2 linked regions of the Homo sapiens genome follow. The protein of the gene in region 1 interacts with the protein of each later gene in a pairwise test. Each region holds a gene or a part of one and is shown in the gene's direction. Other genes may lie near its edges.

Region 1 (3,500 bases):
GGAGACAGCTCATATCTGTCCTACTGGCTGCCCCTTGGACGTGGCCCCAGCTAGTTCATGTGGTACTGGGGAAGGTCGGCAGCCCTGGTTTTGTTGTGTGGAAATGTGATTCCGCTGGTCAGCCGATGGAGCGGCATTACTGTCTGGCAGCTGGAAGTACCCAGCTATCAATTGATATTTCAAAAAGGGTGGCAGACAGGCCTCACGTAAGTGGCAGTTCTTGCAGATTGCTTGTGGATTCCTAGAGTATTGTGGGGCTTGTGGGCCATGTTTTGAATCAGAGGAAAAGAATGTTATAATTGGGGGTTGATGGCTGCTGTAGGCTTGAGAGAAGTGAGCTTGGATGAAGGCAACCACCCTGGCTTAGGTGGGTGGTTGGCAGAGTTACTTGGTATGCATTTGTACTTTAGCTGTAAGAGTTGAAAGCTAAATAACCCCCAAATTTATTCATTACAGACTTGGAATTATTTTTCTTCCTATTGTTGGGTTATAGTCATGTTAATTGTACATCCTTGATTTTCCCAGTCTGGTTTATAGTTTGCTGTTTTTAATAAAGGCAATTTGTTAAAAATACAATTAAATGCATTTTTAAAGCCATTGTAAATTGATACGCAAATTTACAAATGAGAAAATGTGTTCTTTGTGAGATTGTGCCTCATTTTTTGATTAGCGAGAACTGTGATCACGGTAGGTGGGTAACATTTTACATAGTGTGAACTTATGGCGCCTATATACATTGTTATAATTAATCTTTAGTGTCACATAGATAACGCAGTGGCTAAATCATCCTCTCAAATGATTCCAAATGAGATTGAATGTAGCCTTTCTGGCCCTAAAATCCTGACCAGTCAATTCTGGAAAGTTGTATTTTAGTGATCAGCCTGTGGAAAAAGACGAATACATAAATGTGTATGTATTGACTCAAATTTTTTTCTTTAAAACTATTCAGGTTAATTATAGAAAATGCCAAGTAGGAAATTTGCCGATGGTGAAGTGGTAAGAGGTCGATGGCCTGGGAGTTCACTTTATTATGAAGTAGAAATTCTGAGCCACGACAGCACCTCCCAGCTTTACACTGTGAAGTATAAAGATGGAACAGAGCTTGAATTGAAAGAGAATGATATTAAGGTAAGAGCTCCTTTGGTTTATCAGAGTGTGTTTACAGTAAGTGGGAAATAACTCTAAGTATGGTTTCTAAGCTCAGGATAGTCAGTTCAGCTCGGTTTGAAGGCAGAGGATTGAGCTCTTGCTTTGGGTCACATACTGTTTTTGGCTCTGGGAATGTATGAATGAGGCATAGTCCTTGTTCCCAAGAAGCTCACACTTACTGGGAAAGACAGCCATTTGCATCTGTTGGTCCCCTGGGTTTACTACGTTCTGTGTCTGGAGTTTGCTGTGGGTGGTGTTGAGTGTATCAAGGGTAGAGAAGAGCCCTGGGCTTCAGGGGAGGCTTTCAGAGGCAGTGACACCTAGCCAAGTGCTGAGAACAAACAGGAAAAACAGCAGTTGATGGGGCTGTTTCTGCAGAGAGGGCAGTATGCCAAAGTCAGGGGTCTGGGGGACACAGTCAGCCAAGTGCTGGAAGGGGGTGGTAGGGGAGGGCTAAGCAGGAGCCAGGCTGGGGGGGCTTTTATATTCCATGCCCAAGGGTTTGGGCTTCATCCTGAACACCAAGGATTTAATCAGGAGAGTGACATTAATTAGATTCGAGTCTAGCCCAGGGCTTTTCAACCTGTCTGGTGAGGGCCTGGGTTTTAAGATATCTGATCCGTAGTATACAAACATTTATATAAAATGCCATAAAAATGAGTTACTAGAAAAATAAAGACATACACAATAGACGACTCACAGTTTTACTATCAGATTCGATAGATATGAGATTACTTTGTCAAAATGCTATAAACATTTCCATACACCTATTTCTCAATTTTGGTACTTGCACAGATTAGTAACGAGCATTTCTAGGACCCATGGCTGAGGATGACACTTCGAGTGCTCTAGACCAGGAATAAAGCACAGAAAGTAAATATTTTAGACTTTATGGGAGCGGCTCCAGGCAGTATGGAAGGGAGCAGACATGGCAGTGTTCCAGTACAACTTTATGGACAGTGAAATTTGAATTTTGGATAATTTTCACACTTCAGGAAATACTGTTCTTTTGATTTTGTTTGTAATCATTTAAGAATGTAAAAGCCATTCTTAGTAGGAAGGCCACACAAAAATTGGGGTGAGGGACTTGGCCTGGGGCGTAATTTGTCTACATCCCTAGAAGCAACATAAGGAGATTCGGAGTAGGTGGGGACACAGTGAAACAGTTCCCAGTCATCCAAGCTCATGTTTTATTTTCAAGATCTGCTTATGTGTTTTGTTCAGAGTGAAACTGTGGTACTGTTTTTTTTTTTTTGGTCTGTGTGCTTATTTATTTTGTCCTGTCGTCTCAGTTTTAATCCATGTTAATTATTACCCTTCTTGCATATGGTGTTGGAAATAAGTACAGCTAATTGGTTTAGATACATTCGTTTCATGGAAATACCTTCAAAGAACAGGAATGGAAAGGCTGCATTTGTCTCATGAAAGATGGATCATTATGAAAGCATTTTCCATTGGCTTCATCTGATCCATTCTCAGATCCTAACATTTCCCGTGCTGATTTTAGAGTTAATGGTAGCAGTTCCTGCCTTTGTTATCCTCTTCTAGTGTGGGTCTGTCTGTATGTGTTATGATTTGTGGTAAAGCTCTTTGCCTTCTTCCCCCTTTCTAGCCTTTAACTTCCTTTAGGCAAAGGAAAGGTGGCTCAACTTCCAGTTCCCCTTCCAGACGCCGAGGGAGTCGATCAAGGTCACGCTCCCGATCCCCTGGTCGACCACCTAAAAGTGCCCGCCGATCTGCTTCTGCTTCCCACCAGGCCGACATTAAGGAAGCAAGGAGGGAAGTGGAAGTTAAATTGACTCCGCTGATTCTGGTACTTGTGTTTATCCTTATACAGCCTTTTGTCTTCCGCTTTATGTATATATTTACTCAAGTTACTTGCAGTTAATAATATTAAAATGTCACTGAAACATCAAATCTAAGTTGATGACTTTGGGAGTTTTCATATAAAACAAATGTTTGGAATAGAAAGTTTTAAATATCAATGGAAAAGAATGTCCTTCAGTTACCAGAAATGCTATTTAATATTTTAGTTTTTAAAAAAGCAGCGTTCAAATTTGAAATAGATGTAGCTTGTAGATTGAACTGCGTAAGGTTTTTACAGTGTATAAAAGTTCATATCATGTATGAAATGGTAAGACAAACCTGTATTACGGAAACATTCTTACTCTTAGCATCATTATACTTTATCACTTTACCTATTCAAAGATGATTTTAGTGGAATTACTTTCAAGATGTAAGCTTTGAAATATCAGGGTGCATGGAGCCTGTAGATCTTGTACAAATAGTATTTTAGATAGTAGACCAAAGACAAAGTATGTTAAGTAAAAAGAATAAAAGTAATCTTCTAT
Region 2 (3,500 bases), on another chromosome or scaffold:
TTTTAACCTCTGGGTGGTGGATCCCTGGGAGGCCACAAAGTCATTGCAAGAGGTAAACAAATCTGTATATGCAGCAAGTGCTTTTGGCAAGCTACTCTGAGTAAATAATATATCTTACATCATATGTGCTACTATTTTTCTAATTCTATACATACATTATAATGATAAAATGCTAATTTATTTAAAAGAGTTATTGAATTCATAGTAGCTTTTAAGTTTGTGTTTTTGTGTTTTATTAATGAGTGGACTTAAAACATATAATTATATTATGTGTGGGAAGGTTGGGACAGGAAATTTGGGATCTTAAGTAGAAATTCTTTTTAAAATATGAACCAGTGATCTATTTTTTATTCTCCAAAGCCTAGCCACACCAAGTAAAATTATGTATGTATTTGTAGGTTTCTTCGATTAATGTCTGCCCTGTCTTATTGGTCTGTCAGATATATAAGGACAGGAACCTCTATTTTTTTTTCATTCGTATATACCCAGTGCGTGGCACACGGCAGAATCTCAATAAATATTTGTTGAATGAAATAACAAACCAAGTGACTTGACCAAAGTCATCCAGTTAATTAGTGGTAAGATAGTTCCAAAACACACAGCTCCTAAGTTCCAAGCAGTTAACCTTTTCAATATACCACATTACTTCCCCTGATAGTAAGAGAGCATGTTTTAACAGTTAGCAAATTTAGGTTATACAATGCTGCCCAATCTGCCTATATACCCATGCATCTTAACCAGTATCTTAATCAGAATCAACTGTAGAGCTTTTTGAAAATACACATCCCTGAGACCTATCCTCTAGAGATTCTGATTCGGTAGGTCTAGAAGGGGGTCCAGGCATCTGTAGTTTGTAAAAGTTCCCTGGTGACTCTGATAAAACATCCTGGCTCAGAAACAGTTCTGTGCACCTATCGTTAAAATAATTGATAGTAGATGTATGTAGTTACTTATTCCTCAGAAGCCTATTTCTTTAGTTTTGAATAATTTCTTTCTAAAAATTATAGTTGCATATGCCAAATAATCCGTTTGGCCAGAAGAGCAAAACCTTTAGTTTTGCTTTTTTTTCAGTTTAAGCACAAAGTTATCAACCCTGTAAGGTCAAATTTTTCTGATGAGATTTCCAGTGTTTGCTTTTGTAAAGGACTGGAAATGTGGCAAGAATAAAATTTCTCATGGTATTTCCCACTTCCTTTTCCAGCCATCATTACTAAGGGAAATTTAGGCTTAGGGGGAGGGGTGAATCTAGGAGAAAAAAAATTTTAAGTATTTCTGTTCTTAGGAGGTTTTGAGCAGATATTTCGCTTCCTAGGAAAAGCTGAAGATGTTTTTCTCTGTTTCCACTTTGTGGTGAGGATGCACAAATCCTGAAGAGGGGAGAAGCTTCCTCCACCTCCACCCTCACCCCTACATCTTCTCTAGGGCAGGAGTCATCACAGCCCCTGGTTTAGATGCTTCCCTGGGTGGCCCTTTTGAAAGTATGTGGACCCTAAGAGACAGGAGACTTTGAGTGCATGGATGGGGGATAATTTGCTTTTGCAGAAGGACAGAAAATTTATCTCTAGGTTCTTCCTTTATTCGGCAGTTAGGAATTACATCCTCTGTATTGCACAGAAGAATCTACCATATTCAGAGCACTGAGTACATGGATTATATTCACTAAAGATTGGAGAGCCAAAAGTTTCTCTGCAAGAGTGACCTGATCTAGTAAGAATGTCAAAATTGTTACTATATTTGTACCCATGCTCTTCGGTTTAGAGGGCAGGTGCTTCCGTGTGTACATAGAAGCAGAGCTTGTTGGAGAAGAGGAGCTAAAAAGGAATTAGATTAGAATCCACCTCTGTACAATGGCACCATCTGGACTCAGTCTCCTTCATCTCTAACACTGTCCCCACTTTCTCTGCACCCCAAACTCATACTGGCTCCCAAAAGCTCATTGTTAAACTTTCGAGAATTTTGAGAGCCAGTTGTAAAACACAGCCATTATAAAAACTAAATCATATAAACTTACAATTAAACACATTATATGAAGAGCCAAGATAATAAATACTCAAAACTCTTCCTAATTATTTTGCTATGTTTCACTATTATCTATTCTCTTGAGGTTAGTTACATCTATTGTGGCTATATGGTGGAAATACTGTATAAAATGCTGTGCAACTGAGCTTCTCCTCCCAATTCTTCATTCAGTGATGTCATATTCAGAACTTGAAATTGACCATGATGGAAGTAATTACACCACAGAAATCAGCCCATGCTACAAAGCAGACTCCCCTCCCCTCACCCAAGAACTTGTTGCTAAACATTGACTAGCACATCACTGACCCTAAGGGATGCGGTGGTAAAATTAGCCTCTGCATTGGAGAGCCAAGCGGAATACCTCTGTGGTTCAGTTACATGCATATTCATAATGTATGCTTATGATTGCATATTTGTTTGTTTGCTTGCTTATTTATTTCTCATGCTCCTAGAACATAAGCTCTATGAAAGTAGAGACTTTGTTTGGCTTTTTCAGTGCTGTGATTTGAACCTAAAAATGTGCTGTGTCCTGCACATAGTATTAATAAATGAGTTAAATGAGTGAAAGAAATAAATGTCAGGCTGGTAGTGGTAGCTCGTGCCTGTAGTCCCAGCACTTTGGGTGGCCAAGGCAGGCAGATTGCTTAAGGGCAGGAGTTTGAGACTAGCCTGAGCAAAATGGTGAAACACTGCCTCTACAAAAAATACAAAAATTAGCCGGCCATGGTGGTGTGCATCTGTAGTCCCAGCTACTTGGGAGGCTGAGGTGGGAGGATCACATGAGCTTGGGAGGTCGAAGCTGCAGTGAGCTGAGATTGTACCACTGCACTCCACCCTGGGTGACACAGTGAGACCCTGTCTCAGAAAAAAACAAAAAGTAAAAAAAAAAAAAAAAAAAAGTCTACAATTTCTACTTTAAAAATACCTGAAGCCAGTGTTCATGTTGGAGCTCATTGATTCCTCATGAATTGTATCATTGTTCAGTGTTTAGAACAGTGCCTGGCACATGCTAAGTAGCATGTAGATTTTTATTAGGTAAAAATAAAATAAGTTATCTTCATAACAGCTAATTTTACAGATGAAGAAACTGAGTTACGATTAGATTAAGTAATATAGCTAAGGTCCCACAGCTAGTAAGTAGCTGGGTCAGGATCTAAACCCGGGATAATCTGGAGGCACTGCCCACCTTCTTTACCACTGTGCTATGCTGCCTCTTGCTAGTTACTCCACGTCACTGAGACTCCTCTTTTGTATGTGGCTCTAGAAAGAATTGAGATCTATTTGAGAACAAACTTTGGAGTCAGGAGAACTTGAGTTTGAATCTCAAATTTACCACTTTTTTCACTTACAAAATGGGGATGATTTCTCCTCCACTTTGTAGTTGTCACAACTACTAGAAGTAATATCTTGAAACTGCTTTGCACGTACATGATAGACACTCAATTACAAATGGTCAGCTATTGGCTGTGATTTCCTGTGGA

The links.
Region 2: the proteins of LBR (region 1) and CALD1 interact in a two-hybrid assay, tested with the Homo sapiens proteins (one large-scale study listed by BioGRID).

What each region holds. Positions count from the first base shown.
Region 1 is NC_000001.11:225,421,539-225,425,038, reverse strand, and holds part of LBR (delta(14)-sterol reductase LBR), read left to right. Parts: intron 1-949; 5' UTR 950-963; coding exon 964-1,128; intron 1,129-2,761; coding exon 2,762-2,962; intron 2,963-3,500. UniProt on the Homo sapiens protein: Catalyzes the reduction of the C14-unsaturated bond of lanosterol, as part of the metabolic pathway leading to cholesterol biosynthesis.
Region 2 is NC_000007.14:134,786,134-134,789,633, forward strand, and holds part of CALD1 (caldesmon), read left to right. Parts: intron 1-3,500. UniProt on the Homo sapiens protein: Actin- and myosin-binding protein implicated in the regulation of actomyosin interactions in smooth muscle and nonmuscle cells (could act as a bridge between myosin and actin filaments).